3 separate regions of the Homo sapiens genome follow, and regions 1 and 2 are each linked to region 3. The links come from fine-mapping of genetic effects on gene expression. A gene starts in region 3. Each other region holds a variant in brackets. All regions are shown on one strand. Distances are between the middles of the regions. Region 1 overlaps TTC9 (tetratricopeptide repeat domain 9). Region 2 overlaps TTC9 (tetratricopeptide repeat domain 9). Region 3 holds the start of LINC01269 (long intergenic non-protein coding RNA 1269).

Region 1 (7,853 bases), 41 kb before region 3:
AAGGAGACATCCGACAGAGAAGCCATGGGGCTGGCAGCCTCGGGACTGCCCCACCCACCCTCTTGTGCATCAGGCAGATGCCAGCTTACTGAGCTTCCTTATTGGGGTAGGATGAAGAAAGTCCTTGGCTTAATCAGGCATCTTGGGAGTGAGAGCACTAGCAGGTGTGTCCCTTGGATCCGCTCACAGCTGCTCCTCCACCAAAACACCCAGGGTCCCTCATGACCCTAAGCATCCCCAGAACAGTGCCCCATGAAGAGGCAGTGCTTTCTGCCTAGGAAACCCTTCTGAATCCCTTTTCACACCTCTCCTCCCAAGTTCCTCTTCCCCTCATCCCCCAGCTCTCTCTGAAGGGATGATAATGGTTAGTGGTGACTTTTTAAAAATAGTTTCTGCCCGGGAGTGGTGGCTTATGCCTGTAATCCCAGCAGTTTGGGAGGCCAAAGTGGGTGAACCACCTGAGGTCAGGAGTTTGAGACCAGCCTGGCCAACATGGTGAAACCCTGTCTCTACTAAAAATACAAAAATTAGCCGGGCGTGGCGGTATATGCTTGTAGTCCCAGCTACTCAGGAGGCTGAGGCAGAAGAGTTGCTTGAACCTGGGGGCGGAGGTTGCAGTGAGCCGAGATTGCACTACTGCACTCCAGCCTGGGCAACAGTAAGGCTCTGTCTCAAAAAAAAAAAAAAAAAAAAAAAAAAAAAAAAAAATTCTAATTACAAAAGTAAAGCATCATAGTTGCAGAAGTTATTGATACTAAAAGAAAAACCTCAGACAAATTAAATTTAGCAGAGTTTAATTGAGCAAAGAATGACTCGTGAATCGGGCAGCCTCCCAAGCCCGAATAGGCTCAGAGAGACTTCAGTGCAGCCACATGGTGGAAGAAGATTTACGAAACAGAAAAAGGAAAGCCACCGTACAAAAAAATGGAAGCGAGGTACAGAAACAGCTGATACTTAACAGCTCTGCATTTGCCTTATTTGAACTCAGTTTGAACACTTGGTTGCCTTTGATTGGCTAAAACTCAGTTGATTGGCATAAGAGTAGGTTGCAGACTGTTTACACATCCAGCTAGTTTTCAGTTTACTATGGTTCCTTATGTACAAAGAAACCTTTAGGCCAAACTTAGACTATGTAAGGAGGCAGCTTTAGGCTAAATTTAATTTAGCATTGAAAATATAAGAAATTACAAAGAAGCAGCCCAGGCTCAGTGGCTCCCGCCTGTAATCCCAGCACTTTGGGAGGCCGAGGTGGGTGGATCACCTGAGGTTGGGTGTTTGAGAACAGCCTGGCCAACATGGGGAAACCCTGTCTCTACTAAAAATACAAAAATTAGCCAGGCGCAGTGGCGTGCACCTGTAGTCCTAGCTACTCGGGAGGCTGAGGCAGGAGACTCGCCTGAACCTGGGAGGCGGAGGTTGCAGTGAGCCGAGATCGCGCCACTGCTCTCCAAGCGTCGCTTGGGCGACAGAGCGAGACTCCATCTCAAGAAACAAAAAAAAAAAAACAAAGAAGAAGGTAAAACTCTGTCATTTACCACCCCAAGATGACAACAGTTAACCGTTTTGGTTTATTTCCTTGCCGTTTTTCTTCCGTGTGGGTGTATGATCATTTATATGTAAAACAAACATCAGCCAACCCCCTTCAGGTCTACCTTTCCCAGTGTATTTAGGAAACAAGGGGTTGTTCTCACGTGGGCTGGGGCCACTGCAGGGACCTCCTGTCTTTTCTCCCCTCCCCTCCCACAGGATGCTGCTCACTCTGTTTGCATGACAACCAAGGGGCCACTCGACTTCCTGTTGCTGCTACTTCCTTTTCACATTCCACAGCACCACTACACCCAGATGTATAATTTCACTAGACTTTACTGAAGGTTATGAGATGCAGAAGGAGTTTACATCTCAAAAATTGAATAGTAGAAATTCTTCCTCCTAAAACTCATTTGGCCATCAGACCACCAGGAATTTCAAATGGACCACTCACATTTTTTGGCAGGTTCCAGCTCCCCGCCATGCTGCTTGGACTCTTTCTCCCCGCCAGCTCCTCTCAGCTTCTTAGGTTTCCCCACTCTCAGATTCCCTTCATTTCATATACAAAGCAGTCTGGGCATCTTTTCATCTACGTGTGTGCCTGCTACTGACCTCTAAGCTTCACCTTCCCCACCTGAAGCAGTTGATGAAGCCAGTCTCCTCCAAAAAGATAATTTATTCCTTTAAACTCTGCTATAGATATTACAAATTCTTCACCCATACAGAAGGAGCAGAACTTTTAAAAGAAAAAATAATTCTTCACCCTGATACACACACACACACACACACACACACACACACACACATTTATTTTTCACAACATTCAGGTTTATACTGTACAAACTTTAGCAACCTTCATGTTTTTCCACCAGTGTTTTCATTGAAAATATTTTTCACCGTTCCACAGCATGATTGTAATGGCTGTGTAATGTTCCATTGCACCAATGTCCCATTATTTATTTAACTAATCTACTGATGGATACTTAGGTTATTTCCAGCATTCTGTGATTACAGCACAATGCTGCCAAAGACGTGCTCTTTCCGCTATACATGTGCCTGTTAATTATCCTATCCCCAAACACATCTGAGGACATGAGGGAAAGATGGTGGGAGAGGCAATAGGAACAGGGAACATGTCTCTGGGGCAGGAGAGGGGATTGAAATGGGAGACGTTCTTTAATGTCCAAAAAGAGAACAGGATAGAACTCTGGCTTCTAAGGTCTTCCCATTCTGGCTTAGAGTTTCTGCCAATGAACGTGACGTGTGTACTTGGCCAGAGCTGAGAAGGAAAAGATAATATGGGGCGATGGGTTTCTTCTGAATATTTCTGGGAATACACTCATCTTCACATTCCAAATGGCCAATCTGGCCACTCCAAAGTCCCGCTTCCAGACTGAGGAAGGGGTGTTAATGAAGATTCCAGCAAACAACAGCTCTGTCCTACCAACTTTTCACTACTGCCTTCTCCCTCTCTGTCTACTACACCAAAGTCAAGGGTGAGAGTAAGGGGCCATAGGTGGGATAACTTCTAAGTGTTCTGCCATAGCACCCAGATTGGTGCCAAAGGGCTGAGCTGACCTTAAGCTTTGGCATTACAACTCCCTTGGGCAGATTCCTATATGCTTTAAAGGACTGTCAATGTAAGCTTTCAGCTTACAGGATTTTATACTGACTTTCCATGCAGTTCTTTTACCTGCCACTTTGACAGCTATTTTTGCCAACAGAGGGTAATTAAAAAGAATATAAACTCCTTGAAGATATCAATATCTCTTGAATGCTTTCCATATTCCTTATGAAGCCCTGGGCACAGGCCACGATGAGTGAATCCTTATTGACTAAGTTTACTAAGAGTGCCTA[C/T]CCGAAATTGTGTAGTGATGATGCGTGGGAAGCAGCAGCTCTGGTAGTGATCCCAAAGGTGGGGCATCCATGTGAAGAATCAGAGGGATTCAAGGGAGCAGCTTGGTTATGATGAAAAGGAGAGATCTCCAAAGACAGTGTTGCTAAAACAAAGAAAACAAAAGACACACTTGACAGTGTTTGTTTGAATCTAGTGCAAGCACATACTAGAATGGAAAAGTGGAAGGTCAGAAATTAATGTGAATGGAATCAAAGGAGATTTAGCCCCCTAGATAAAGCCAAACAGCTCCTGGCAGTAGAAATAGCAGCAGCAGTAGTGGGAGACTCTCTGGGCAGCAGGCAGGAGAAATAGGTATTGGAGTGAACAAAGAAACGGCTACTTGTGGGCCAGACACGGTGGCTCACACCTGTAATCCCAGTGCTTTGGGAGGCCGAGGCGGGCAGATCACCTGAGGTCAGGAGTTCAAGACCAGCCTGGGTAACATGGTGAAACCCCATCTCTACTAAAAATACAAAAATTAGCCAGACCTGGTGGCAGGCACCTGTAATCCCAGCTACTTGGGAGGCTGAGGCAGGAGAATTGCTTGAACCCAGGAGGCAGAGGTTGCAGTGAGCTGAGATAGTGCCACTGCACTCCAGCTTGGGCGACAGAGCGAGACTCCATCTCAAACAAACAAACAAACAAACAAAGAAACAGCCACTTGGAGGGTGCTAACTCTCTGAGCCAGAGTTCTCAGTCCTCAGACTTGATAAAGACCTTCAGAGATCAGCCAGTCCGGGTTTCCACCATTACCACCAGCTCTGTTGGATTGGAACCAATATGGGATTTGGGGTTAAGTAAACACTAGCTCTTTCCCCATAAGAGCTAAGTGGGCTCAGCGGGTCACTTAACTTCCCCAAGCCTCAGCTCCTGGAAGCAGAGCTAATAATAGCTATTTCCCGGAGTCTCCATGAAAGTTAAATGAGTTGTAAAACACCGTATATATGTTAGGTCTTGCTGCCAGTTGGGCATAACCACTGTGGTAGGTGCTGTGTGAGAATTTAAAGATGTTCTAGAGATGTTTGTCTGAAAGAGCAAGGGAGACGCATTTCATAAAGAACAGTAATGATCCTGATTTGAGAATGTAGCTATGAAAAATAATTTTATTCTTTGTAAAACTAAAGGGCACATTTGATGATTGTACCTGTAGATCTGACTCATTAGAGAGACCCCCTAACAGGTTCTGCAAAGCATTACCATTAGGCAAGGATGTGCTATAATTTCACAGATATTTAAAAAATAATAATTTCTTAGCAAGTTAGAAATAGAGCAAAATTGCCTGATCTCAGTTAAAAGCATCTGCAAAAAAAAACTGAAGCCAACATCATAGTTGATGACAAGAAATGAAATTCTTTCTCTTATGATCCAGGAATTGCACTCTTGAGCTCTTATCTTAGAGAAATAAAAGCTATACCTGACTATTCCTATCAACTTTATTCGTAATAATCAAATACTGGAAACAGCGCAGATATCTTTCAGCAGATGAATGGGTAAACAAACTGTAGTACATCCATACCATGCAATACTACAGAGCAATTAAAAAAGGATGAACTATTGGTGCATTTAACAACTTGGATGCATTGCAAGGAAATTATGCTGAGTGTAAAAAGCGCCTTCCAAAGGATTTCATGCTATGTGATTCCATTTATATAATATTTTCAAAATGACAAAATTTTAAAAATAGAGAACAGGTTAGCAGTTGTCAGGGGTTAAAGAGGAAGTGGTGGGACAGGAAGGAGATGATAGAGGAACCTACACACGATAAAACTGTATATAACTAAACACACACACACGCACACACACACACACACACACACACACACATACTGGGTACAAGTAAAGCTAGGGAAACCTGAATAAGATCTGTGGATTCTATCAGTGTCAATATCATAGCCAATATGTTGTACTATCATTTTACAAGATATTAGCGCTAAGGGAAAATGGGTAAAGGGTATGGGAGGTCTCTTTGTAGTATTTCTTACAACGGTAGGTGAATCTACAATTATCACAATAAAAGTTTCAAGTAAAAAATAATAATTGGGGGGTTAGTTTTGCAAGCACTAGCTAAGCAAAGATAGGTGTTGTTTCAGGAAGAAACCAGAAACGTGTCATGTCAGCCCTGTTAGGATAACAGTAGACTCTGAATGGAATTGGAGATGCTGGTGGTTTTAGAACTTAGGAAAAAAAGCAGCCGCAGCAGGAGGAGGGGAAACTTTGCAGTTGGTTTTGTTTGCTTGTTTTTTGTTTTTCTCTCTGAATGTAAAGGAACTAGTGGGAGAGAAGGTTCTGGAGGGTTACATAGGAAGTTTCCGGATGAGTATTTACGTATAAAGTGAGAACAGTTTAGCACAATTAGGGTCTCACACTTAAGCCCTACAGGAAGCAGTACCCATGCCTCAAATATGTCTAATGAAGGAATTGAGTTAGAATCATTACAGGCAGGTAAGCATCCTAGGAGGGCAGTGTGTGTGATGGTTAAAAGCACAGTCTCAGGTGCCAGATGACCTAAATTCAAATCCTGGCTCTGACACTTACTAGCATTGTGACTTTGGGCAAGTGACTTGACTTCCTAGGGCCTCCATTTTCCTATCTGAAAAAAATGGGCAAAATACTAGAAGCTAGAATAGATTGCTGTCAAGATTAAATGAGTTAATGCTCAGAGCAGTGCCTGGCCCATTCATGCTAAATAAAGATGACCTGCTCTTCCTCTTATTCCCTTTCTGGGAGGATGGATGGATACTGTCCACTGGTGCAGGGCCATATTCTCTTGAGTGCATCATGCAGCACCTCATCCTTCTGCTCCTTTTCCCCATCTCCTTGGCCGGGGTTCTTATTCTCCAGGGGAATATTTCAAATCACTAACAAGAGAAGTATCCAAATGTCACAAGTTGACAGCGTAACAGAGAACAATTATTTGCACACATGTGCAGATTTCCAGCTCTAGGACTTGGCCATCTGATACCTGTCTGCCCTTGTGGGTAGTGGGTGAAAATCTACTTTAGATAGAAAATCTACTTTAAATTACGCTGTAGCTTTGTTTATGTACCACATATTGTATATAGGACTCAAGATGGAAATTTTCTCCAATTCATGTACACATTGCTGGGCAAACCATATTTGATAAGTGACTTTCTAAAGAACTAGTATTTATGAGAATCCATTTTTGTCCCAGCACTGTGAGAAGCATGTAATGTGCATTAATTATCTCATTTCATCATCATAAGCGTTCCCCCAAAGTTCCTATTTAACATGGGAAGAATAAGACCCAGGGTGATCATATAACTCGCCCTCGGGCCTGTGCTAGTGAGTGGCAGAGCTCAGATTCCAGCTCAAGACTGCATCTCTAGACCCAGCATTAGTCTTCAGCCAGGGCACCCAGAGCTGGTACAATACTGTTTGCCTATTTGGTTTGGTTATGATCTATACCAGTCATTCAATATTCTTAATATCAGCTCTGTCCAGATCCCAAACTTCTTCCACTTTACTACTATGTCATTGCTTCTTGAAATAAATTTGAAAGCAAATCAAATAATTTGGCAAACTTTTGGGAAAATTTTCCCCTAGGAACCCAATGGCCATTTCCTGGGCCCATCTCACAAAGCAGTGACTAGCAAGGTATATTAGTTTCCTAAGGCTGCTGTAATATCACACACTGGGTGACTTAAAATAACAGAAATTCATTGTCTTGTCATTCTAGAGGCTAGAAGTGAAACATCAAGGTGTCGGCAGGGTTGGTTCCCTCTGAGGGCTGTGAGGAAGAATCTGTTCCAAGCCTCTCTCCTAACTTCTGGTAGCCCCAGGCACTCACTGGCTTTGTAGATAGCCGTCTTCCTAGATCTTATTGCATCATCTTTCCACTCTGTATCTGTCTCTGTGTCCAAATTTCTCCTTTTTATAAGGACACTAGTCAAATTGGATTAGGGCCCATTCTAACTATTTCATTTTAACTTGATCATCTCTGCAAAGACCCTGTCTCCAAATAAAGTGACATTCTTAGGTACTGAGGGTGAGGACTGTAACGTATCCTGTACAAATGGATACGGTGCAACCCCAAACAGTGAGGCAGCCTTGTAGAGTAGGTTCTTCCTTCTCGCTGCTGGCCCCAGATGGGTCTGGTCTTCCTTCCATTTAGCCCATGTTTCCCTTCTGTTCAGCAGGTAAAAGCAAACTATAGTGAGTTAGCTATAAGAAGAAAACCAGTGATTGCATGAACTTGTTCTTCCTTTCATCTGGTTTCCCTTTATCTCATGCCAGTGGGTGGCGTTTTGCCCTGCATGCACCAGGAAACACAAAAACAAAACAGGTGCCAGAGTGAGGAGAACTCAACATGCTTTAGCCTGAGGTCTCAGCGTGGTTGCTGGGGGGAACATCACACTTAGGATTTTCCGTCTGTGTGCATGAGTGTCGCGGGGGCTCTTTGAGTAGCTGA
Region 2 (7,853 bases), 25 kb before region 3:
CATTTACTATGTGTCTCCTTGGCATCTGACTCAATCTCGCTAGGTCCCTATTCCATTTTGTCACAGTGAGGAGAAGGATACATACCTTGCGGGATTGTATTGAGGATTAAATGAGATCATGAAGGTTAGAAACCTGGCACAAGGTTGGCATTCAAAAATGGAGCTTGTTGGCTGGGCGCGGTGGCTCACTCACGCCTCTGATCCCAGCACTTTGGGAGGCCAAGGTGGGCAGATCACCTAAAGTCAGGAGTTTGAAACGAGCCTGGCCAATATGATGAAACCCCGTCTCTACTAAAAATACAAGAATTAGCTGGGCGCAGTGGGATGTGTCTGTAATCCCAGCTACTGAGGCAGGAGAATTGCTTGAACTTGAGAGGTGGAGTTTGCAGCAAACCAAGATTGCACCACTACACTCCAGCCTGGGCGAACAGGACAAGGCTCCATCTCAAAAAACAAACAAACAAAAAAAAATAGAGGTTGTTTCTTGCAGATGGTACAGGAGGCTCAGAGAAGTTGGCAACTTGCCTGATGTTAAACTCCAACTGGGGTCTCACTAAACTAACTGCGCCGGCTGGGAAACCACTGGGATACGCTGCTGCATAGAAAGAGGGAGAGAAATTCTCTCTCCTCTCCCACCCATTCTCTCTCACATCCCCTGGGTCATGCCAACCTGTCCACATTTGCTAAGGGGAGACAGTGAAGGAGAGGGTCGACATCTAGTTGCCCTCTCAGCCACCATGGATAGGCAGAAGGGACCTTGGTTGAGTGAGCCTGGCCTGTTGGATGTCTGCAGACACAGCCTTTGCTAATTCCTTGTAAATGTGATAGTTGCCCTCACCTGGTGTTCCCTAAGGTTTATTTCTCTCCTCACAGACACCAACGTGATTCGGTATATCCAGCTGACGGAGATGAAACTCAGCCGATGCTCCCAGAGAGAAAAAGAAGCCATGTAACCAGGAAGCAGCTCCAGAGCTGCGCCCACGCCTGACCGGGGACTTCCAGGCATCCCCTGGCAGAGAGCCCCGTCCTGGATTCTGTCCCTTTCTCCCCACTTCTTCTGGCTCCTCATTTTTCCTCCTGTTGCACCCCAGCTCTTTGTCTCCTCCCAGTACGAAAAGGAGAGATGCAAATTTGGAATCTGGTAGGTCGCCCAGACAATGGAGACATCCTCTCCTCTAGCAGGTCAGCGACTGAGAGGGGCCTGACTTCTGCTGGGACAGCTGGAGAGGAGTCTCATGGGCTGGGATGCTGTTGTGGCTTTGACTTTGGCCAGTGCTTCTGACAGAGGCGGAGCCTGGCAAGTGTACCATCCCACAGGCAGCAGGCACACAGCCCATGGGCTGGATCCTTCCACACTTTCCTGACAGACCAGAACCAGAGCATCTCGAGGCAACTGTTAGAAATCCAGGGACGAGACAAACAGAGAAGCGCTGGTGAAGCCAACATAGAGACTGTCAATGTGTACACTGGAGTTCCCACCCCCACCCCCCACCCGTCACTTAGCCCCTGCCTCCTTCCCCCACTCGTTGTCTTGGCTTGTGCTTTCTCCTCTCCCCATCGGGGATCCGAGACTCTGCCAGGATTCACATGCCACTGAAGCCCACTCAGTGCCCTCTGGTGACCACACATACCATTCCCCCGGACTCCCACCCAGCAGGCAGCTGTGACCGCAGAAGGGCAGGATGAAGTGGGCCAAGGTTTGGGACAGGTTGACTGTGTAGGTGACAGGGAGGGAAAGATGATGGCCAGGGGAAAGAGCATCGTATAGGCTAGGGGATTGAACTGTGGACTGATTCAGTGTAAATAAAAACAAATTAACAGGTAGTAGTTCCTGTCAGTTCTGTTGGAAGCAGCCCACTCCCTCACTTTTACTCCTTCCTCCAACCCTCAATCAGAGCTACTTACAGCCAGGCAGGATGGGGCTTTCCCCAAAGCAATTGGCCGTTTGTCCAGTGGCAGACAATGGTGGCTACAGCCTTTGTGCTTTTAAGAGTGGGCTGGGATTGTGGAGACTGCCCAGGGGCTTGGCTTTGTCAGAACTTGTACAATCTTCTTTTGATGAAATTATCTGAACTCAACATCTAGCACATAGAATGTGTTCAACAAATGCTTGTTGAATGAATAAATTATGACTGCAGACTGGCTCTCCTGCCTTAAACTAATTTCATCCCAGCCTAGTCTCCTGATGTCTGTGCTCGTTATGCTATGCCATGTTGCTTCAGTCAAACAAGAAACACTTACTGAGGGCATATTGTTTGCCCATCATTGTGCAATATGCTGTGGGACATGGGATGTCGTCTCAGTCTTCAAGGAAATGGAAGGGTTAAGAAATGCATATGAGATTATTACCAATGACACCGTTAATTTATATGATGCTTTAAAATTATCAGAGCACTTTCATGTATTTTTCGTGTGACTAGTGAAAAAGACAATGTTGTACAAAATTAAAATATATACAGATGCAATAATGTGAATAGTTAGGATTTATTAAATGCATTATCTTCAGATCTTTACATGTATAATCTCATTTCTTTCATGCAGTTACTCTGGGATACTGTTCCCATTTGATGGGTAAGAATATTGAAAACCAGAAAAATTAATTATCCCAAGGTTGCATGGCCTTTAGTGGCATAGCTAGGATTTGAACCAGGCCTGCCTGACTCCAGAGCTCTGGCTAGTATCTATGCTATACTTAGTTGCCTCTCTGTAAGTATAATATTGGGCAATTATAACCATTTGAGAACAGGACAATATGTATTAACCTGAAAAGTGTTCATGATGTCAGTGATAGTACATGGCCTCCTTATGTATTTACTCAAGGGCCCCAAAAGACCAGAGGCCAGAATCCCTAGTAGTCAGAGCAGTGACAGGTCAGAAAAAGGCAGCTGAGGTCCAATAGTTATGTCTGTGTATTGCTCATTCTACTTACTGATGGAGCCAGCATGTATCTCAACAACTCACCTAGCATTCATCACCCATCCCCAGCATTGGGAAAGGGTCACAATTAAGACCGAAAGGAAACACAAAGTTAAATATGGGTTAATTATGTAAGCAGATGCCCCACCACGGCAGGATCCAATCACAGCCGAGGGGCCCAGAAGAGAGCAGCGTAAGTTATATTCACATAGTTCCCCAAAGGCTTTCAACGGGGGCTACAGGAAGGTGCTAGAAATATTGAGGGGCCTGCCATTACTCACCTAGAGCTCACTCTCTGGAGAAGAGGAAAAGGAAGAAGCTATTTCAGCTGCCACATTCTCCCCAATCCCTACTATATTATGCTGTCTTTCCTCTTCCTCCTAGCTGGCTTTACATGACCCTAACCCAAAACTACCCTATGGCCCCACACGGGAATGTGTTCAAACGCCCCGACCCCCACCCCCACCCCCATTCCCAAGCCTCCAACTTAGAACGTTTGTGATTTGGCAGATGGTTTGTTAGGATCTGAAGGATGAAGAGAAGGGTAGAGGTCACCTGGAGAATGAGTTCAAACTGCCAGGGTCTTCCCTTGGTCTTTGTGCGTCAGGAAGGACTCCGAGTAATTATTCCCTATGCAGAGACAGGAGAGAGGTCTTGTTTACATGAGTGTGCTGGGGCAGGGCTGGACAATCCAGGATATGATTGTAGCCATCCCATGTAGAAAGATCAAAAACCAGAACGAAATGAAGACAGCCTCTCAGAACCTCATAGAACAAGCGTCCAGGTCATCTGCTTGTTTGGTGACTTAGATATACAGGCTTACTGGAACTCCATTCACTGTGACCTGAAGTTAAATAATCCCAAAGAGAAAAAGCTACCTGGGGTATTGGTTGATGTTTGGGGTGATAGGGCTGAATTTTCTGTGCATTTGTCCAACAAAGGCTTTAGAGCACAAAACCAGGTTCATTCTCCCTACCAAATCTTCAGCTTCCTTCTCCTCATCCCTCCCCAAAACAAGAACTGTGATTTAATTCCGTACGTTGCGGATGTCACTGCTGACCTATGTAGCTGGAGTACTAATCAGGCATCTGACCTGCACTGTCATCCCCTGCCTGGACTTTTGCGATGGACTCTT[T/C]GGGGGAAAAACTAACGCTTTTTAATTATTGTGAAAGCATCATGTGTGTATTGTAGAAGTTTTAGGAAAAAAAGGACAAAATCCAATCCATAAGCTTACCACCCAAGACAAACGTGTATTCTTTTGAATATACCTTTTAGTTCTTTTTGGTGTAAATGTACACACGCACACACAGTTGTGGATTTTTTTAAACAAAAACTGGATACACTGAATATACTCTTTAATAACTTTTCAAGTGTGTATTTATATTTTAGAATATGTAATCCTACACAGATACAAAATTCAAAAAGTACAAACTGCTCTGTAGTCAGAAGTAAATCTTCTCCCTACCCCGTCTGCCAGCATCTAGTTTCCCTCTAATTTATTTTGCATCCTAGTGGAGATGCTTACACATTGTCAAACATATGTATATATTCTTTTATCACACACAAATGGCAGCATATTGGACACTTTTTGTTTTTTGCTCCTTCTGTTCCTTCACTTAATAATATCACGAACATTTTCGGCATATCAAACTTTCTCAACAGCATCTTCATTGTATGGATGGACCCTTTTTTTATCATCAATCCTCAAATAGTGATTATTTCATTTGTTCCCAATCTTCATTGTAAATAGTGTTGCAACTGACATTCTTGTAGCTAAATTTTGCACATGTCTATAACGATTTCCTTAGGATAAACTCCAAGAAGAGACTTGCTTGGCTATTTTTAAGAATTTTGATACATGTTGCCAACCACCCTCCAGAAAGTTTGTACCAAAACGCTCTCCTATTTGGATCCTAGAGAGTACCCTGTTTCCTGCACCCTAACACTAGGTATCATCACTTATCAAATCTTTCCCAATTTGGTAGCTGGGATAATAGTATGTCAATGTTATTTTAACTTTCTTTGATTCTTCGCGAATAACATTTTCATATGCTTATTGACCATTTGTACTTCTTTCTTTGTGAATTTTCTATTTATTTGATATTGGTATGTTTATTATCAATTTGTAATTTTATTAAGAATATTATTTTTGTCAAGAAATGCTGCAAATATGCTTTCCAAGTGCTTTGCTTTCAAATTTTGTTTATGGTGCTTTTTGACATACATAAATTCTTAATTCTGCAATTAATTCGTTCCTCTGTTGCCAGCTTCTCCTGCCTACAGTTCATTCTCTTATTTCTATCAGAGTGACCCTTCCAAAACACAGTTTGACCATGTCACTCCACAACTTCAGCACTTTGGGAGGCCAAGGTGGGTGGATCACAAGGTCAGGAGTTCAAGACCAGCCTGGCCAAGATGGTGAAACCCCATCTCTTCTAAAATACACACCCACAAAAAAATCAGCTGGGTGCGGTGGCAGGCACCTGTAATCCCAGCTACTCAGGAGGCTGAGGCAGGAGAATCACTTGAACCTGGGCATCAGAGGTTGCAGTGAGCCGAGATCACGCCACTCCACTCCAGCCTGGGCAACAGAGTGAGACTCTGTCTCAGGAAAAATAAAATCTTTAGTAGCGCCTCGTCACTTCTAGGATAAAGTCCAAACTCCTTAACAACACACACGGTCTTTCATATTTTGTCTCCACTGATCTTTCCAGCCTCACTTCCTGGTCCTCTTCCCAAAGTATCCTACATTCCACTGCTGTGCAGCTTCTTTTGCCGCCCTGAGCCATTGTGCTGGGTCTCTGGGCCTTTCCACGCTATTCCTTCCCTCTGCCTCATCGGCTATTCCTTAGCCCTTCAGTCCTCTCTACCTTGCTAACTCCTATAGGCCTTCATTCAGGATCACTGCTAGAAAGCCTTCCTTGGTCCTTTAGTCTGAATTCTTAAAGCAACACAAGCCTACCTCAGCCTAGCTTTTGCTACAACAAATTAGAGTTTCTAGTTTACATTCATCTCCCGCACGCCCTGGGTGTCCCTCAAGGCAGGCACTGTGGTATATTCATCTTTGCAGCCAGAATGTTGAGCACCATGCCTGGCACATTGTAGGTACTCAGAAAACGTTGAGCATTCAGCCTGGAATGAAGGAATAATGGGTTCAGTGGCAAATGTTACTGGAGGTAAATGCAGGGCTGAACTAGATCTGTGCTTCTGAGAAATGAAGATCTCCTAAGAGACTTGGGTCAGAAGAGAAGCCACGTGCTGCAGCCCTGTGCTTTCCAAGATATCAGAATCACTAGGAAGAGCTTTTTAAAAATACATAATCTCAGGCTCTACCTTAGACCCATTGAATCAGATTCACAGGAATAGTGTTCAGGATAGTTTTTTGAATGCCATGAGGTAACCAGCCAGGTTAAGGGGCCACTGCTGAGGCCCAGCAAACTTGAGAGCACGCCGCTCCACTATTTCAAACCATGTGACATTTTACAGTGGATAGACGGAGTTTTGTTTGAATACCAGCTTTAACATCTGCTAGCTGTGTGACCCTGGTGCAGTTGTTTAACTTTTCTGACCCTCATTTTCCTCGCCCATACATGGGGAGAATGTTTTGTTTTGTGTTCCAAGATGGAGTCTTGCTCTGTCGCCCAGGGTGGAGTGTGGTGGCACGGTCTCCGTTCACCGCAACCTCCGCCTCCCAGGTTCAAGCAATTCTCCTGCCTCAGCCTCCCGAGTAGCTGGGATTACAGGCACACACTACCATGCCCAGCTAATTTTTGTATTTTTAGTAGAGAGAGGCTTTCACCAATTTGGCCAGGCTGGGGGAAAATGTTTTATCCCTTAAAAGGGTGTGGGGAGGACTAAGAAATAAGTATCTCCCAGCTCAGTGGCTGGCACAGAATAAGCACAGAAAAAACATTTATTTCCTTCCCCCACCCTCCCTGGCCTCAGTTTCCTTGTTTATAGTGTGGCTGCTAATACTTGCACGTTCACCTTCCACATTCCCCCTCTCTGCACTGTAGAAGGAAGGGAACCTTCCAAGAGGCCCTTGGGTTACTCTCTGCTCAAGCAGGACAAGTACTTGGAGGTGGGGAGTAGAAAGACAGAGGAAGCTTCATACTCCAACCCATGCCTCTCCAGGCTTCAAAGAGACTCCACAGCAATCAGTTGGAATAATTCTGATGGTTCTCGGAATCAGCTGTCTTCCAGTCACATCCAACGATAAACGCTGTTTTCTTCCTAACAGTCCACCCAGAGGCCAGCAGCCTCTGAGCTGCAAGGAGACGGCAATTGCCGGGAAATAGAACAGCCATTGCCCACTCCCCTTCCAGTGCCCTTGGTATCCTCATCACATGCCTCAGGGCAGGAAAGACAAGACTGGCTGTGAGGTCAAATAGCTGGTCTGCAGCTGCTTTAAGACGCCCCACTCCCTGGTCTCAATGCCAGCACTCTCTCCACAGCAGCCCAGGGCGGGCAGTGGAGGCAGGGAAAATGCATTCAGTCCATCAGGCGTGGCATAGTTCAAATTACCAAGTCAGCATGAAAAGTCCCACTCTAAATGGACTGAAATTGGATTCTATTAAAAACCACATTCAGCGAGACCCTTGACTATTAATATTTGCTAAGACACGGAGGAGGGGGAGGCGGTGGAAGCCCCTGAGAAAGGCTGAGCATCTCAGCTGCTCCGTTGAGTTGCCTGTCTGAAAGGGAGCCTACGTCTGACCCCTAGACTTGCCTTGTTTTCCAAGTCTCACAGAATATTAGGGCTGGACAGAAGCTTGAAGCTCAGTAGTTCAACCCTCTTTTCTTTCAGATGAGAGATCAAGTCCAGAGATGATTAAGAGATTTATTCAAGGTCACACAGATAGTAAGCAGCAAATCTGAACTGGAACTCAGGTCAGTTTCCTGACAACAAACAATACTCTTTCCACTGAACCAAAGTA
Region 3 (7,853 bases):
CACACCTGTAGTTCCAGCTACTCGGGAGGCTGAGGCAGGAGAATTGCTTGAACCCAGGAGGCAGAGGCTGCAGTGAGCCAAGATTGCGCCATTGCACTCCAGCCTGGGCGACAGAACGAGACTCCGTCTCAAAAAAAAAAAAAAAAAAAAAAAAGATAAACCAAGTGTCTTTCAATTGTTTGTAACCAAAAGAGCTTGACTCAGAGAAGCTAAAAAAACTTACCTAACACCACGTAACTTAAGAAGGATGAAGCTGGGACTCTAACGCCTGCACATTCCTATAACTGCCAAACCACTCAGACTTTGTCTTCTTCCTAGAGGTTGGCAGGGCAGAGGTGGAGCTTCCCCAGCAGATCGCACTGTCTCATTTCCCCTCCTTTCACGCCAGTACATTTTCCCAAGAAAAGCCAAGGTCAGAATCACCTCCAGGGCAGCCTCAAATGGGAAAAGAAGTTGACGACAGGAATGTATAGGAAGTAGAGAAGGGCAGCACCATTTTGGTGGGTAGGGATCAGGCAATGTGGGGTCAGTTTATGGTTTTACTGAGTCTTGATTCTTTTGGGGAGCAGGTGGAGCCAGCCCCTTCTCTCCATGGAGACACAGCCAGGCAGATGGGTTAGGTGAGCAAGTCACAGGCCAGGAAGAAGTGTGGGGACAGCTTAGCTTTTGAAGTGGGGACTTTGCCCATCAGGCTTCCAGGCCCAAATAAGTCCCCTCATCAAGGAAACTGTGTACCCCTCAGGCAGGCTTGCTCCAAAGATGCAGTCAAGCCAGGCAAAGACCAAGGAAAAGAGGGTCAAAGATCTCTCTGGGCAAATCCATTAGTGACAGCTGATCCCTTGGAGCCACTTGAAGTCTGCAGCTCCTGAAGCTCTGTTTATTAACTCTGTTTATTTCTCCAATTTGTCAAGTACTGTCTGCAAGCTCCAGCTTCCCTCATAAGTGCTCAGCTTCTATTCTGCCTCGCAGGCTTCACCAATTTGATTAGCATACTCTGCACTCCATCTTTCAAGTCGTTAATGAAAATACTGATGAATACTGGGAGTTATTCAGGTCCCTGGGAGGCCTCTCCTCCATCCCTTCATCTTTTTGCCTGGCAAGTAAACTGGAAGGGATGAATCCTCTTTTCAGATAGTCTTTGCCCACTGTTCAAGAGCTTTTGTCTAATCTTTTCATTCATTCATTTATTCAATCACTCATTTATTCATTTGCTAGGGCTAGAGGCTTAGCACAGTCCCTGGCACATGGAAAATGCTAAACAAATGCAAGCTCTTAGTGTTATGAGGTGCTGTGGAGAAACAGAGATGCACAGGATAGACCCCAGCCCTGAGCAGTAAGAATGGGAATAAGAATTACAGCTGCCAATTTTGAAATACTTGCCAGATACTGGGCTACGTACCGTCCAGACAATATCCAGCCCAGGCCAGGTATCATCCACCCTACAGAGGCATTTGTTGGTAATGATTAAAAGGGAGGATTCTGGCCAGGCGTGGTGGCTCACGCCTCTAATTCCAGCACTTTGGGAAGCCGAGGTGGGCAGATCACTTGAGGTCAGGAGTTTGAGACCAGCCTGGCCAAATGGTGAAACCCCATCTCTACAAAAATTAGCCAGGCATGGTGGCGGGTGCCTGTAGTCCCAGCTACTCGGGAGGCTGAGGCAGGAGAATTGCTTGAACCTGGGAGGCAGAGGTTGCAGTGAGCTGAGGTAGTGCCACTGCACTCCAGCCTGGGCAATAGAGTGAGACTCAGTTAAAAAAAAAAAAAAAAGTGAGGATTCTAAAGTCAAAATTCTTATTCTAGCTTTCCACTGACTGGCTTCTTTGCCTTAGATTCTCCCTCCGTACAGTAAGGGTACTATTAGTTATTTCATAGGGTTACTGTGAGGATTTAAATTATTAAATAATACAGAATTGGTACTTGGAGCACTGCCCAGCATATAATATGCACTGAACAAATGCTGGCAATTATTATTATTATTTGATGTAATACAATTACCCTTTATGAGGTAAGTGTTATTATCAGTGTTTTACCAACAAGAAAGCTGAAGTTTAGGAAGCCTGAGTAATTTGCCTAAAGTCCTACAACCAAATAATGGAACTCGGGTCCAAACCCAAATCTGATTCCAAATTCCATTTGCTTTATTACTGTATGCTAGAAAGGAAGAAAACATGCATACATACATACATAATTATTTTTACAAGACAGAAAAGCAAATGAGACTGTAGAGCACAGAATATTTTCATGGCGCATAGTAGATTCTCAATGAATCCAGCCAAATAATGATGATGTTGATGATGTCAGTAATGATGATGACAAAATTCTAAAGTGCCATACTGAAGTTTTAAAAAATTGTTTTAAGATGTCACAGGACAGAGAGAGATCATTTATGAAGAGAGGAATAGTTGGAGACTTTCCTGGAAAAGGTGGCATTTGCAAAGGCCTTAAAGGATGACCATGAGTTGGACACAAGGAGAGAAGAGAAAAAGGCACCCGGGTAGAGGAAACTGCAGGAGCAAAGGCTTACAGACATGAATGCTTAGGGTGTGTGTGAAAAGAAAGAGCAAGAAGTTCCACTGGACAGTACGTGTTATATGAAAGAAAATAGTTGGGACTGAGCTGGAAAGGAAGGAGACACACCCTTATTGACACATGAGGCCTTGCCCAAAAGACTGGTCAAAGCAGAGAGATTTCTCACACTTCAGAGTCTTCTGAAACTCACATTGGAGAAACAGCCATATGAGGGATTTGGAGATGAGGAATGGGGTTTCTTCAATATTCAGGCAAGAGTAAGTACCACAATGCTTATGCAATAAAGCTTCAGTTTGAGGTGAGGGTCAGTTTGAGGTGAGGGCTAGGCAGGGCTGACATTCAGCCAACACATGTGTATCAATATAGGTTGTTGAAAATATTAAACTGCTTTTCCTCCAGGCTGGTAAATGGCACTACCCTGAACCACCCAAGGCCCCTTCCCCTGGACTCCAGGACCTCCTCGACATCCTTGCATAAAAACATTAATTTCTGGCATTATTTTGATAATCACCCCTGGAGCTAGGGGACTTGGCTTGAGGATACTTTTGCATAGCATTTTACTTAACATTGAAAAACACAACAGTTTTATCAATAAATGGGTTGCAGAATGTAAAAGCAAACAGACCAACCGCTACACTCTGGCCTCAGATATTCCTCAAGCTAGATCCTTCTGGGGAACTAACTCTTTTCCTGCTGAGTCACTGTGGCTGCAGCCCTGCCCTTCCATGTGACTGTGTCATTTGGCATTATGGTTCCTCCTGAGCCCAAGGGAACTACAAAGGTCTGTATCAGGACACTGGGCATTGCCACTGTGCTAGGTGCACACACCTGACTGATCGTCTTGTGGGCTCCCGCATTTCCTGTTGCTCCAGGCATCAGATATATCCCTGGGATCCCTCCATTAGCTTGGCAATGCTATGGAAGTTGCCAGAAAAAGAATCCTAAGGAATTGGTTCTTGGCAAATCCTAAGGAATTTGGCTCAGGCATTTGTCTTCCTAATGAACTGGTGGGGAGGTAGCTGTGTTGGTACATCATCTCCAAGGCAGGATCCTGCCCTCTGAAGCTTGAGGTGAGAGCGGGGACATGGGGGGTGGTGGGGAAGCTTGGGACCTGCTCTTCCCTCTGCCATGAATTTTCTCTTTCTGCCCAAAGCAATGGCTTCTCTTAGCCCTGCATTTCAATTTGATTGCTCTCAGTCCCCACGGTCACCTTCCCCCACCCACAGCTCTTCACAAAAGACAGCCAAGAACAGGGAGGAAGGGATCCTGAGGCAGAGTCCCTTTGAGCCCAATTGAGGCTGGGGTCCCCGGGCAAATCTGCACCCTGTGCAACTCCTGGGACTGCAGATGTGAGTGATGCCCCAGGATGAACGGTGCCCCAAAAGCCTTGAGCGGGGGAACCCTGTGTGCCATCTGCCACTTCTCCCTTGGGAAGATAGCCCCACCACTGAGCCAGGGAGCACCAGGAGGAGGTCCTGGATCTCTAACATCTGTCATCCTGCTGGGTAATGATACTGTGTCTTTCATAAAAGTCAGAACTAGCCTGGGCAACATGGAGAAACCTCATCTCTACAAAAAAAAAAAAAAAGCTGGGCATGGCAGTCATGTACCTATCAGTGCCAACTACTTAGGAGGCTGAGGTGTGAGGATCGTTTGAGCCAGGAGGCAGAGACTGCAGTGAGCTATGATGACACCACTGCACTCCAGTCTAGGAGACAGAGTGAGTCCCTGTCAAAAAAATAAAAATTAAAAAGAAAAGCTTTCCATCCCTCCCTTTTAGAGAAAGCAAAGAAGACACATAGAAGACGGTAATTCACACACCTACAGGTGTGGCTGTGGTCACAGGCTTTGCCCAGGGACCTTTCCTGGGAGGGGAAAGAAAAGCCTATGAATTGCATTGAGGACCAGAACAAGGGCACAGGATATGGAGGGAGGTGACAACGAAATGGTTTTTATTGGCAATCAGTGCTTCACACACTGCGGTCCCTCCTACCAGTCCGCTAGCAGGTTCCTAGGGAAGCAACACGTCTTCTATTTGGCCATGCACACACCCCCACACCCCTCTACAGCAGGGTGCACTTTCTGTTCTCCTGCATGGCTGGCTTGATGCTCACCCTGCAGCCCAGTGACAGGAGGAATGACATCACGCCTGCCTGTGCAGAACCTACCTTCCATTCCCTATCTCAACTGTGCTCTTCTTCTCCACAGTGGCTCCCAAAGTCTCAAGCCCACTGTGCTGATTTGAGCATTTGGCTCAGCCTTTTCTGGTCATCACCAACGTTCACCTGGCCATGCTGATGGCAGCACGCATGGATCTGGCCATTCCCACAGCCTGGTCACCCCATGGTGGCCCTTGATTGAGCTTGCCATGGCACGGAAGGGGGCCTCTCCTACTCACCGATCTCCTTATTGAGGTACAGCACATTCATTTGTATTCATATGGTAGTAATACCTAATTTTTATAAAACTCCTCAAGTGCCAGGCACTGTCCAAAGTATTTACATACATTACTCATTTAATCCTCACAATCACATGATATATACTGTTAGCCCCAATTTACAGATTGAGGAAACTTGCCCATGGAGACTTTTGTTAACATATTCAAAGTTGCATGTAAGGAACAGGGCCCAGATTTCAACCCAAGCTACTAAGTTCCCAAGTGCATGTGTGTTCCAAAACATCATGCCATGAGGCTGCTGAAGATACACATGACTGGTATCCAAATCCTTCCTAGGAATAGGCAGTGATGCTATGGGTGGAGAAGCATGGAGGAGGCAGATCCTGGAAAGAGGGTGAGCAAAGGGCACAGAAAGGGGACACTGGGAGTCAGAAGCCAAAGGGGAACTTGGACTTCCCTCCGTTCTCCAAGGCCTGGCTCTCTTTGAAGATAGTGTGGGATGAGAGAGAGAACAGAATACTAAAGAACAGAATGAGAGCAGGTGAGCAGTGGGCCCAGAGGAGAGGAATGCACACAGGCTGAAGGGAGAGAAGAGACAAAATGGACATAGCACGTCTCACAAGCCAATGGGAGGAGCTGGGAACCCAGCATTAGCTGGAAGGTGCTCACCTTCCCTCTTGATGGTTGACTCAGTGCCGACACAGACTTTAGCTGTCAGCCTGAAAGCAATCAGCTCATCATTGCAGCCTCTTTATTGTCTAAATTTTTCTGAAAGCATGAGAAGCCACTGGCCTTTCAACAGGGCTACCGAGGACCTGGGGAAGAGAAGGGCAGGGAAGCAGAGACAGAGGCCAAACACAAGTGCTTCTGCCAGCAGGGTTCAGAGCACATCTGGCAACCCCAGCTCCCAGCCCTGAAGCAGGCACCAGGCTACAAGGACAGACATAGACCAGGGACAAGGAAAAGGAAGGGCCAGCCCCAAAGCCCTTGGGATGCCTTGTCAACAGGCCAGTGTCCTTTGGAAAACACTCCAAAGGAAACAACAAATGTGAGACAAAGGATTTCCTTCCTCTTCCCTCATGTCGGAAATTCCCTGAGTTTCTTTCCTGGACCACTTGTCTGTCTCTATAACAATCCTACACACTGGTCAAAGTTTTTAAGGCCAAAAGTTTTAAAGGAAATGGAAAGAGAAGTAAGATTGAAAAGATGTGTCAGAGTCTGTTGCTGTCACTGTGGGAGCTCACTCTTTCTTGTCACAGTGAACAAAGCTGAGGAAACCAAGATTTTTCCATGCATTTGCTGGGGTTGGGACCCATGGCCTAGAACTAGGGGTCAGCGGAAAACAGAGCATGCCCATTAGACAAAGGGGTTAGCGAGAAGGAAGATAGAAGCAGATGCCAATGGGGCAGGGAGCTGTAGGGAAAAGAGGGGGAAGAGGGAGGGATGGGGGGAAAAGGAGGAAGAAGTGGAGGAGGAGGGGATGAGGAGGAGAAGGAGGAACAAGAGGAAGAGGGGAAAGGAGGAAGAGGAGGGGGGTGAGAAGAAAGAGGAAGGAGGAGGAAGAGGAGGAGGAGGAAGAGGAGGAGGAGGAAGAGGAGGAGGAAGGGGAGGAGGAGGAAGGGGAGGAGGAGGAAGGGGAGGAAGAGGGGATGCACATGGAGAAGAGAAATCACCACTGCCTTGTCTGCCTTCACTTCTCCCTGCCTCTGGCATCCTCTACCTGCTGTCAGTCAAGTTCTTGCCACTGGCACTTAACTTGTCTTCCCTTTATGGACCTCAGCCATCCACCCCTCCAGGTCCTTCCTGCCTCTCACCTGGACCAGTCTGTGGCTTCCAATAATAGTCTTCTTAGCTTCAGTTTCTCCCATCTCCAGCTCATTCCTCTCACCACTCCAGGTTTAGCTTCCTAAAATATTATTTTCACGACATTATTCTCTATTATTTTTCATAACTCCCTCTTTAACTTCCATTTCCCAATTTGGTGTAATGGAAGGAGCCCGAGTTTTTCATAGACGGGTCCTCAAGGGTTCTCAGCCTCGGCACAGTTGATATTTGGGGCCAGATAATTCCTCACTGTGAGACCTGTCCTGTGCATATTTACATGTTCAGCAGCATTCCTGCTACCCTTGAGTGCATCCCTCCCCACTCCTACTTGTGACAACCAAAAATTTCTCAACAGTGCCACATGTCTCCTGGGTGACAAAGTTGCCTCTGGTTAAGAACCACTGACCTAGATTCAACTCCTGACTCTGTCACCTACTGACAGAGCTCCTTTGGGTAAATGACATAACTTCTCTGAAGCCTAGTTTCCTCAACATTAACACAGGGCTAATAATGCCTACCTTACAGAGCCATTGGGAGAATTAGATAAAATAATTCTAATATGTAACACAGACCTAACACAATACCTAGCACATGATAATAGCACAATGGGATGGGGCCCATTGTGTACAGTACAAACCGGAGATTCTACCATGGTTTAGCCCCATCCTAGATATATTAGAATAGCCATTTACTTGTTATTATAAGGAACAAAATAATAGTGGATTAAACAAGTAATAGTCCACATAAAATCAGTCCTGGCTGATAGAGTGCCCACGTGGTGTCTGGTGTACAGGCTCTTTCCAGCTTCATGTTCTGCCAACCTCAACACAAGGTTTCCATCCTATGGTCTAAGATGGCTGTTCCAGCTCCCACCACCACATGTCTGCCCTTCCAGGCAGCAAGAAGGAAAGAAGGGTGGAAGGGGAGAATATGCCTCTTTCCTTATGTGGGTACCATTGCGGTGCTGTACACATCACTTCCACTCACATTCTATTGGCCAGAGCCTAGTCACATGATCACACCCAACTACAAAGGAGACTGCGAAATATATACATATATTTATATATATATCCATAGCTATATTATATATATATATCTCCAT

What was found. PIP is the estimated chance that this variant, and not a neighbour inherited with it, causes the effect. A credible set is the group of variants that fine-mapping cannot tell apart.
Region 1: its variant is the best candidate, but not a certain one, in a credible set for the expression of LINC01269 in whole blood (INTERVAL, PIP 0.62).
Region 2: its variant is the best candidate, but not a certain one, in a credible set for the expression of LINC01269 in whole blood (TOPMed, PIP 0.86).

The regions. Positions count from the first base shown.
Region 1 is chr14:70,653,915-70,661,767 of GRCh38, forward strand. The region is part of intron 1 of TTC9 (tetratricopeptide repeat domain 9); the gene reads left to right. Among named protein-coding and RNA genes, the nearest start is that of TTC9, 16 kb to the left of the region's middle. RefSeq lists enhancers at 1-193, 767-826 and a silencer at 567-706. The variant C/T (reference allele first, on the strand shown) is at 3,385.
Region 2 is chr14:70,670,203-70,678,055 of GRCh38, forward strand. TTC9 (tetratricopeptide repeat domain 9) reads left to right here. Exons shown (of 3, transcript NM_015351.2): 3 at 874-5,164. The coding sequence ends at 953. Among named protein-coding and RNA genes, the nearest start is that of LINC01269, 25 kb to the right of the region's middle. The variant T/C (reference allele first, on the strand shown) is at 4,052.
Region 3 is chr14:70,695,258-70,703,110 of GRCh38, forward strand. It overlaps LINC01269 (long intergenic non-protein coding RNA 1269), which reads left to right and starts at 3,441. Exons shown (of 4, transcript NR_125769.1): 1 at 3,441-3,599; 2 at 4,738-4,943. RefSeq lists enhancers at 2,551-3,750, 3,157-3,658, 3,659-4,158.